Linked DNA regions of Homo sapiens. The protein of the gene in region 1 purifies or fractionates together with the protein of each later gene. This does not show direct contact. Each region holds a gene or a part of one and is shown on either strand. Other genes may lie near its edges. The genes, in order: SLC9C2, ACAA2 and DNAJC18.

Region 1 (3,657 bases):
AGGGTCAGGATCTACTCATCTTTGCTTTCCCATACCTGGCCCATTAGCTGTGTTTAATAAATGCTTGTTGAATGCATAAATGAATGAGCAAGTAAATGAAAGCATGAATTGTTCTTCTTTTATTAAATTATAGGACAATAAGGTATGACTTTAAGAACTCAGATACTTCAACTACCTACCTAATTCTTTGACAGCATCCTGTTTGTTGGTTTCCAAAATTTCACATAGTTTCTGTAAAAAATTAAGAAAAACATGTATTTCTTATTATTCATATAGTTTCTGTAAGAAATTAAGAAAAACATGCATTTCTTCTTATATTCCTGAGAAGCATACTTATTATACCAAGTATAGTTCTGGCTTTCCTTTTATTTTTATTTTTTGAGACAGAGTCTTGCTCTGTTGCCGAGGTTGGAGTGCAGTGGTGCAATCTCAGCTCACTGCAACCTCCACTTCCCGGGTTCAAGTTATTCTCGTGCCTCAGCCTCCCAAGTAGCTGGGATACAAGTGTGAGCGACCACACCCAGCTGATTTTTGTATTTTTAGTAGAGATGGGGTTTCTCCATGTTGGCTAGGCTGGTCTTGAACTCCTGACCTCAGGTGATCTACTCACTTCTGCCTCCCAAAGTGCTGGGATTACAGGCATAAGCCACCACACCTAGCCTGGCTTTCCTTTTAAATTCAGAGAAAAGGAAGTATGGTAGAGGACATTTCACCTAGTTTTAGAAAAGCTATTGGCTCATTTCTTCCCTCTGGGTCAATTCTGCTGCTTTGCCCATGCTCAGACGTCAATCTCAATGAGTCTAGTACAGTCAGTAGCTTGCATAACTACCTTGCCTAATAGTTATCAGAAAAGATCAGTATGTACTCCACTGTGCACCAAGGAGAATTCTCATAGCGCCTCATTTGGCAGTGAGCCAAGTGAGCAGCTAGTTGGGAAGCCAGCCTATCAGGAGCACAAAAAGAAGTGGAAAAATGAGAAAATACGATATTGATTAGTTCATATTTCTAACAAATAACTCCTTAGATAACTGAAGAAATCACTGCACTCCAGGGCTAACCAATCTCTGTTCAATCAATCATACAACAGGTATTTGTTGGATGCCCACTATGTCCCAGGCACTTTTCCTCTTAAAGCTTACCCTCCAGCTTTGAGTCACTGGGGAGTTTGCACTTGGCTACACCAACAGTCCTGGAATCACACAACTGACAGTTCTTTAGGGTTGTCAGGTACAGATGTCTGAAACTCTGCCCCAAATAATGCATGGCATAGTGCTCTTTATAGGGAACACCTGGTTTGTTATCTAAAGTTTAAGCAAAGTTAAGTTTTTGTGGGGTTTTTTTGTTGTCTTTGTTTTGGTTTAGAAAAAAATCGCATGTAATGAATCCCTCATTTTGAATATAAGAATAAGGTATGTAATATTTATTAAATTATTTCTTCTTACTCGATAACATTGCATCAATATTGGGAAGGTGCCAAATTACTAGCCTGTCCATGGCACCAACATATCCTAGCCCAGCCCTGCTTGCATAGGTGCAAAGAAAGCAGCTAGGCCCCCTTCACACCAAACTAGACTTACAGCAACCCTGTAAGACTGCTCTAGAACGCCTTTGCACAAAAGCGCATGGGACCTGACTCCTGCCTACAAAGAGAGCATAATCATGAAAGCCTGGGCATACATTTATTTTTCTTAAGGTGAGCTGCCACAGGCCAATTTCCAGAACCAAGTCAGTTTCAGAATAAACACCAGTTAGACATCTAAACACATCTCAAAAGGCCATTTAAATCTTTACTGGTGCTTCTTTCAAAATGTCACAGGGGATTCACTTCACCTGTGACACGTCAAGGCAACTGCCCTCAGATCTCTGCATCTTCTCCCAAACTCCTGAAAACACATTCTTAACTCCCCCCACTGTCTCTTGTTTTTCTTCTCTCTTCCTCCTTCTGCTGAAATCTTTTCTCCTATGAATAGCTCTGTGTTCTTTCTAATGCAGATCAATCCAGCCTTTGAGTAGTTCTTTTAATTTTCTTCTCCATTCTTCAAAGTAAAGCAACAGGACAGAATTCTGTTACACATTAATGTTCAATCCAATAAAGGTAGATATCTTCACAGCCTCTTTTCCTCTTCTTATTTCAATAAGTAAAGAGCCTCTCTTGACTGAGGTAACGTAACCGTCACCACAAAAAATAGGCACCGTAACCAGAAGACATAACCTCTAGGCCATCCATGGTTTTATGTATCCACACATAATCATTGTAGTAATCAGGATTTAAATCCATCTCCAGTTAAAAATCAAGAGTGTAACTTGGGCTGAGAAAACACCTTTCAGCTGTTGATACTGTTCACCTTAGCCCCTCATTGACACGTATGAAAATATAACCAAAATCACCAAACACTGGGGGCAAAAACAGAATGAAATATAGAAACCAAACACAATGAATAGGAGAGTGAACCCCAAGGAAGCAGAATTAACACAGGAAGCAAAATATCTTTTAAGATGAAAAGAAGATTCTAGATAATATTATGTTAATTCTTTTAAAGCAAACAGTTGTTATGAAAAGGAAGCAACCACAGTTTTTGGAGATCAAAAAGTAATTGTCAAAAAAAATTAAAAAGTTTAATAGATGGGTTGAACAGAAGAAAGAACACAACTAGAAATTTAAAAATCTGTAACCTGGAAAATCAATTGAAAGATTCTCACTGCAAAGAGCAGAGTTGACAGCTATGAGTGAAAAATAAGGAAGTTTTTTATCTAAAGAATGCGAGTCTCCTCTACATTATCAGGCCCAAAGAAGCATGAGAATGAGAGAGCAGTCACGTTCCACTTTCCCCACTCTTTTGCGAGTGACTGGTAATAGACAGACTGGTGCGAGGGAGCCTGGTTAGGAGAGGATTCACTCCACCTCTAGGCTCCCATCTAGTACTTACAGCATAGTGGCTGGAAATGAAGAGGGTCTTAAATGATAAAAAATAAATACTTCTACTCACCCACCCCACAGTACCAGGATTTCAACTTTTCACTATCAAATCTTTGTTCTCTTTTCCTCTCTTCCTCTTCACTTAAGACTTACCCTTTCTTTGAAGCCTTTTTCAAGTCTCAACTCCTGCATACACCTTTCCAAGTGCCCTGTCTTTTAGAGAGTGTTACAGAGACATACTAGATCTCTTCTCTATACTCTGCACTCAGAAAAGAGATCATATGTTTTCTGCCATGAAGATAATAAATGAGTTTGATGATAACAGCTGAAATGTAATGATCAGAGACTGTTCTCTGTAGCACCTCATATGATATAATAAACAACTGAATCCCTTTCAACTGTTGGAATTTGTCTGTTTCGTCAAACACACATAGAACTAGTCTTAAAAGAAGTTAATACACCTAAGGGGTTTTTCTCCCCAAATGACCAGTGCTTGTTTCTCACCTGATATATTGATTCACAGACAGCTATTTGTTTTATTAGAAGTTTGGCATCTTCTTGACTTTTGATATAGCCTTTTGTAATACTATACATCAAGCTGAGGCGCTTTTTGATCTGCACATCTGCAATTCTTATCAGTATTGGTACTATTATCTGGAATAATGAGAAGAAGAAAAAAAAACCTGTACATTTGATGAGGAAAAGCACCCTCTGAGGCAGAAATTCATAAAGTGTCATCT
Region 2 (3,657 bases), on another chromosome or scaffold:
GTTCCCCACACTTGCTTGATCTATCACCATCCTTTCAGGTGGACCCCTTAGAGTTGTAAGCCCTTAAAAGGGCCAAGAATTTCTTTTTGAGGGAGCTCGGCTCTTAAGACGCAAGTTGGTGGATGCTCCAAGCCAAATAAAGCCTCTTCCTTCTTTAATCCAGTGTCTGAGGAGTTTTGACTGTGGCTCGTCCTGCTACACTGTGATGTAAAGCCATTCTGGTTAGACAACTTTCTTGTTCTCTGATGCTTCACAATGCTAGAAACATATGTTGAGAACTAAAATCCTTCTTCTATGTGCTGGAGTATATTGCCTAGTATTAGAATAAAAGAATCTCCAAACTAGAAGGTGCCTTAGGGTTGTCTGAGGTCAACCACTCACTCTATAAGAACTACCTCTAAAAATTCCTGACAAAAGGTTCTCTCTAAACCTCTGCCAGGAAACTTTCAGTAAGAGGGCATACTCTACTGCATGAAACAGTGTGCTGGTCATGGACAACATAAACTAATGATATTGCTTTTTTTTTTTTTTTTTTGGAGACAGAGTTTTGCTCTTGTCGCCCAGGCTGGAGCGCAGTGGCGCGATTTCGGCTCACTGCAACCTCCGCCTCCCGGGTTCAAGTGATTCTCCTGCCTCAGCCTCCCGAGTAGCTGGGACTACAGACACCCACCACCAGGCCCGGCTAATTTTTGTATTTTTAGTAGAGACGGGGTTTCACCATGTTGGCCAGGCTGGTCTTGAACTCCTGACCTCAGGGGATCCACCCACCTCAGCCTCCCAAAGTGCTAGAATTACAGGCGTGAGTCACCCACTCCCGGCCCCAACGAATGATATTTCTTTATATTGAACTAACTCAGCTTACAAAGTCTTCCATCCACCAATTCTAGTTCTCTCCAAAAGCACCAACACAGATAGAGATGTAGTTTCTAGAATATATGCTGCTACCGGTTCTAGAGTCACAGGATGACTCAAGTTACAGACTTCAAATAAATAACCTGAACTATTATCTTTTACTCTTAGAAAAAAAATGGGCAAAACAGGTTACCTTCTACATGTGTATCCCCCACCTCCAGTATCTGAAGTCAGCTAACCTGTAAGTCCCCAAACCTAGTGACTCTCATCTCAGGTAAATTAAAGGCATTCTTTCAATAGTTTTTTATTTGACATTAATTCTGACTGCTTTCCTCTAAAGACACTGTAGTTTGCCAACATCCTATTAAAATGTGTCCCTTAGAATATAAGAATATAACAAAAATAGCATGCATTTTATCTAATCACAAAGAATAGAGGAATTATCTATACATCTACTAATACAAACTAAGACTATAAATTTGCAGCATCACTATTAGTTAAATCGGTGTCCTTGTACAAATAAATAAAAATCACCCCTTCCCAATCACCTACTACCATCTGCCAAAAAAAAACTTGTGACTATACAAATATATGATTATGATGTGAGTGGTACCCACTCATCATCATTAGAGCTGTACAGTGCAAAACCGGCATATCAGTAAGCAGCATCAGTTATAGCCATTTCATCATATTGACATTCATTAGGTGTCTACTAAATACTAGACATTTTATCACTTTCCACACAAAAGCTAATCTTCCCAGCAACTCTGCAAGGTAAATATTATAGCTAACATAGAGGGGACACTTACTATGGAATAGACTTCATGCTAGCACTTTGCATATACTAACTTTATTCTCTCCAAGACAATCTAAGCTCACATTTCCACATCTTGTCAAGAAATTATGGGACTTTCGGCAATGGGTTTGTGATAAGATACTGATCTACAAATGAGACTATTCAAGCATTATACCACTACTGGTATCTAAGTATAATCTTCCAGTTTATGATCTCTTTCATCAAACAAACCAAGCCTAGCCTAAAATATTTCTATTTCAACCTCTCTTTTCATTCCTATTTTGAGAAATTTGCAGTTTAAAGGAATATTAGGAGCAATATATATAACTATAATTTAGAACAGATCCACTCAGTTTTTTACAGATACAAATTCAGATAGTTACAAAAGGCCATAAATACTAGTCGAGTGCATTACAAACGTTTTGTTCTGGTAAATTGGTTATTCTGTACCATGATGCCTTCCTGAATCTTTTCAAGTTTCCTTTCATCCTCCTTCCTTAACAGTCTCTGCCTATTTTTATATCAGTGTTTTCTTTTTTTTTTGAGACAGTCTTGCTCTGTGCCCAGGCTAGAGTGCAGTGATGTGATCACAGCTCCCTGCAGCCTCGACCTCTGCAGCCTCGACTTTCCCAACTCAAGTGATCCCCCTGCCTCAGCCTCCCAAGTAGGTAGGACTACAGGCATGTGCCACCACACCTGGCTAATTTTTACCTTTTTTTCTTTTTTTTTTTTGTAGAGATGGGGTCTTGCTATGTTTCCCAGGCTGGTCTCGAACTCCTGGGCTCAAGCAATCCTCCCACCTTGGCCTCCCAAACTGCTAGGATTATAGGCATGAGCTACTGCACCTGGCCTATCAGTGGTTGCTTTATTTCATTCTTCTTTCCTCTTTCCATGCCTTCTTCCTAATTTCATTAGTTCTGCTTCTGGTCATGGCCTACTATGCTCCTATCTGACCAACCCTCCAACAGATAACAATGAAAAACTCCAGACAATATATAAGAACAACTACTACCTGACGGTCTTGGAAATGAACAAAACTAGACAGGTAAGGAGAAGAGTTGATACTTAGAGGAAGGGAACAGAACAGGGTAAGTGTCCAATTTATTTATAGCAACTAACTTGAAGACTAACAGTCCATGATGCATGGAATGGCTAGAACTCAGAAACAGTCTTACTGGCTTGAAGAATCAGAGAATAAAATTCATGGTAAGCACAGCCACTAGAAAGTGAATGAGAATCTGGGAAAGAGGAGCACCATAGAGCGAGATTCCAAATTTCACATATAAACTCTGCCCAAATATTTGGCTGACTCCTTAGCCATTCATGTGTAGGTCAGACCACAAGCACCTAAGCCAAGCCTTAAAAAACTGAACTTAGATTTAAGCTGCTGCCCACTACAAGGGGAGACATAGTTTATCACGGGGGTGCATGGGGGTGATTTTGTAGGCAAAGTAACTGTCTACAAAAAATAAATAGCCAACCAATCAATAAGTCAGTTCTGTCTGCAGGATTATAACAGAATCCAGTCTCCACAATGTTCCATCTGCAATATTCATAATATAATTCAAAGTTAATCCACATATGAGGAAACAAAAAATATGACAATCAACAGAGACCAATCCCAAGAAGACCCAGACACTGAAATTAGCAGACAAGGATTTTAAAATAGCATTCTATTACAACTATGCTCAAGGATGTAGAGGAAAATATGCTCCTAATAAAACATAGGACATCTCAGTAAAGAAATACATACTATAAAAATCCAAAATGGAAATTCCAAAACTGGAAAATACCTGAAATAAAAAATTCCCTGGATGGGCTTAACAGCAAAATAGAAATGAAAGGAGAAAAATTCAGCGACTTTGAAGATAGATAAATAGAAATTAACCAATCTGAAGAACAGATGAAAAAAAAAAGATTAAAAAACAAAGCCAGAACCTCAAGGTCTGACAAAGGAGGAAAGGCAATTCACTGGAAAAAGGATCGTCTTTCCAACAAACAGTGCTGGA
Region 3 (3,069 bases), on another chromosome or scaffold:
CCACTGGTGACTAGGAAGAATTCAGTCACTGCCTGGGCTGTGTGGTTCTGGGCCTTCCTGTGGAGCTGAGCTGCCTGAATTATCATGACTCTGAACTTGGAAGGATCATTAAGTGACTGTAGCCTACACTCCATGCTTCCTTCATATTGGAAGAAAAGTTTCTGGTAGAGAGTCGGCCGGGTGCACTGGCTCAAGCCTGTAATCCCAGCACTTTGGGAGGCTGTGGCAGGTGGATCACCTGAGGTCAGGAGTTCAAGACCAGCCTGGCCAACACAGTGAAACCCCATCTCTACTAATAATACAAAAATTAGCCAGGTGTGGTGGCACATGCCTGTAGTCCCAGCTACTCGGGAGGCTGAGGCATGAGAATCGCTGCAACTTGCAAGGTGGAGGTTACAGTGAGCTGAAATCACGCCACTGCACTCCACTCCATCTCAAAAAAAAAAAGAGTCTACATTAAACAGATTCCAAAGTAAAGTTTCTTCATCCCAATGCATGGCCATGATTTACACAGACGTGCCTAGCATGGCTCATCAACATCTGAACGGTTGTTCCCTACCATGCCTCTGCAGGCATTCCACAGAGTCAGGAGATGGGTTCACAGGTAAAGATTGGGGGCTTTAGTGGCTTGTAGGGGACAACTGCTCAGTTGCAGGGAGAGGGAGCATTTCTAGAAATAGCCAGATTTTGCTGCCCAACTAGATCTGTCCTCCTGGTTTTAGGGGGCCCTTCTTGATCCCCTCTGAGTGACTGAGGGAGGTTACATTGTAAAATATGTCCATGAGCCAAACAGGCTTATGGAAAGTTCTTCTACACACAAAAAAATCAAAGCTCTCCTCTCCCCATCCCCAACCACTGCTAGAAAATTGGCCATAATGAAACTGACTTGACAGGTTAAAAGACCCTGTCCTAGATGCCCAGGAATCAGGTAGTCACACATTTTATGGACTTCATGGCAGCGATAAGTAATCTGTGATGATACTAAATAGAAGCAATAATAACTAACTCCATTAAATGTCACGCTGATTGTCTGTTTTTATAGCACCGATGGTACTGTTTTATTTATTGCCAATAGACCACAACATTCACATCTGTTTTTCCTCAAGGGAACCGTATTTGCTTTTGGTTGAAGGATTTATCTATTTGATACTATCCAGAATATTGTGAAGCTATAATTTCCTGGGTTATATTTTAGATGGGTTGTCTGCATGGTGGTAAAATAAGCTTTTTCCTCTCGCCTACGTCCTTTGGAAGATCTCCTGATCATACATAACTAGGTAGGGCTTATTCTTGCTGCCGGAGCTTGGCACCCAGCTCTAGACTGTTTCTTTGAGCATTACTGCAGATTGGAGACGTGTGTGAGAGGAGCAGCGCTCAGAAATAGGGCTTGAGGCTCAAGCAGAAACTGAAGCTCTCATTCAAATGAAGATGCTCTCTCTACCGCACGATCGGCAGTGAGAAAAGGAGGATGAAAATCCTTCTCATCACAAAGAGCTTGAAGGAACCCACGTCCCCAGATTAGCAACCCTAGAGTTCATCTGCTCAGGCCGGGAAATGTGTAAGCTTCCTTGATCAGCTCCAGGCCTCACAGCACGGGAGCAGTGACCAGTAAGGAAACGTCACTGCTGTGCTTTCTGTTGGAAATTGTTCGAAAATACAGTGAACTGGCCAGGCCCAGTAGCTCATGCCTGTAATCCCAGCACTTTGAAAGGCTGAGGCAGGCAGATCATTTGAGGTCAGGAGTTCCAGACCAGCCTGGCCAACATGGTGAAACCCTGTCTGTACTAAAAATACAAAAATTAGGCGGGCATGGTAGCACGTGTCTGTAATCCCAGCTCCTCAGGAGGCTGAGGCAGAAGAATCTCTTGAGCCTGGGAGGCAGAGGTTGCAGTAAGCTGAGATCACATCATTGCACTCCAGCCTGGGTGACAGAGCAAGACTCTGTCTCAAAAAAAAAAAAAGAAAGAAAAAAGAAAATACAGTGAACTCCAGATGCCACTGGAACATGGGTTCCAGCAGCCTGGCCAAGCTATGTGTCATTCTTTTTCCTCATGATACCCAGGATGGGCTTTGTGAGGAGGCACTGTGCCGTTCCAGTGGCTTTCTGTTACAGCTGGCCACACCATACAAGCAAGTACATCATCTGCATGCACTGCTCCTCACAGGAGCTTGCACTTCATTCATATTTATTCTGCCCTCATTTAAGGTATAAGCTTAGTGTCCTAATATATTTATTTTTGGAAAGGGCCAAGTTACAAAACATCTTTTTTTTGAGGCTGCACTGTTGATATGTCATGCAGTGGCCACCAAGAAAGTATATACTCGTGTTAGATACTGATTACATCATTTACATCACGCTCAGTATTTGGAATTAAAGATGTGAATGTTCTGTGACCAGAGTAGGGATGACACAAATGGAATCAGCTCCTGGTGGACTAAGAATCTTGAAAAAATCTGGCCACCTCATCCACTACATCTGGATTGAGTGTACTGCAACAAAGAAAAACATTAAACAATTTTATATTAAAAGAATGGCTACTTTTCCTTGGTTCTTTTACCTTTGCCCATGGCATCCTTGGCCACTGCACATCGCCTGACTCCCTTGGAGCCACTTCCGACTAAAGAAGCTTTTGACGCCTGCTCCAGTCTTCCCTCACCCGTCAGTGGGATTATTTGCATTTAGAATAGTAGATAGCATTGTTGGCATCAGTTCCACATTTTCTATCAGATAACAGCAGCTGCAGTACCTCACAGCCAATATACAGATCAAAACTACACTTAGCATCAGAAATTCAGGTGTTATCCCAGTTCCTTGCTGGCTTTGGTCCTAGTGGCCCATATTTAGGAAAGTTTTGGTTTAAAAATATAGTAAATGATATTTACATGATCCTAACTGGTCATGATAGCTTTCATTTGAAAAAGAAAGTGAGATGAGATTCAATTCAGCAATGATTGAGAACTTACTCTGAGCCAGGTGGGCTGGGTTTTTGGAATGGGGGTCAGGGAACAGGTGAGGCCCAGCACCAAGACTCCTGGAGCTCACATCTAATGGGGAGGCCAGGCTTTCCA

What was found.
Region 2: the proteins of SLC9C2 (region 1) and ACAA2 purify together in Homo sapiens (affinity purification with mass spectrometry; one large-scale study listed by BioGRID and IntAct). This does not show direct contact.
Region 3: the proteins of SLC9C2 (region 1) and DNAJC18 purify together in Homo sapiens (affinity purification with mass spectrometry; one large-scale study listed by BioGRID and IntAct). This does not show direct contact.

What each region holds. Positions count from the first base shown.
Region 1 is NC_000001.11:173,526,484-173,530,140, forward strand, and holds part of SLC9C2 (sodium/hydrogen exchanger 11), read right to left. Parts: intron 3,572-3,657; coding exon 3,422-3,571; intron 232-3,421; coding exon 180-231; intron 1-179. UniProt on the Homo sapiens protein: Involved in pH regulation.
Region 2 is NC_000018.10:49,803,392-49,807,048, forward strand, and holds part of ACAA2 (3-ketoacyl-CoA thiolase, mitochondrial), read right to left. Parts: intron 1-3,657. UniProt on the Homo sapiens protein: In the production of energy from fats, this is one of the enzymes that catalyzes the last step of the mitochondrial beta-oxidation pathway, an aerobic process breaking down fatty acids into acetyl-CoA.
Region 3 is NC_000005.10:139,409,666-139,412,734, reverse strand, and holds the end of DNAJC18 (dnaJ homolog subfamily C member 18), read left to right. Parts: 3' UTR 1-2,532; downstream 2,533-3,069.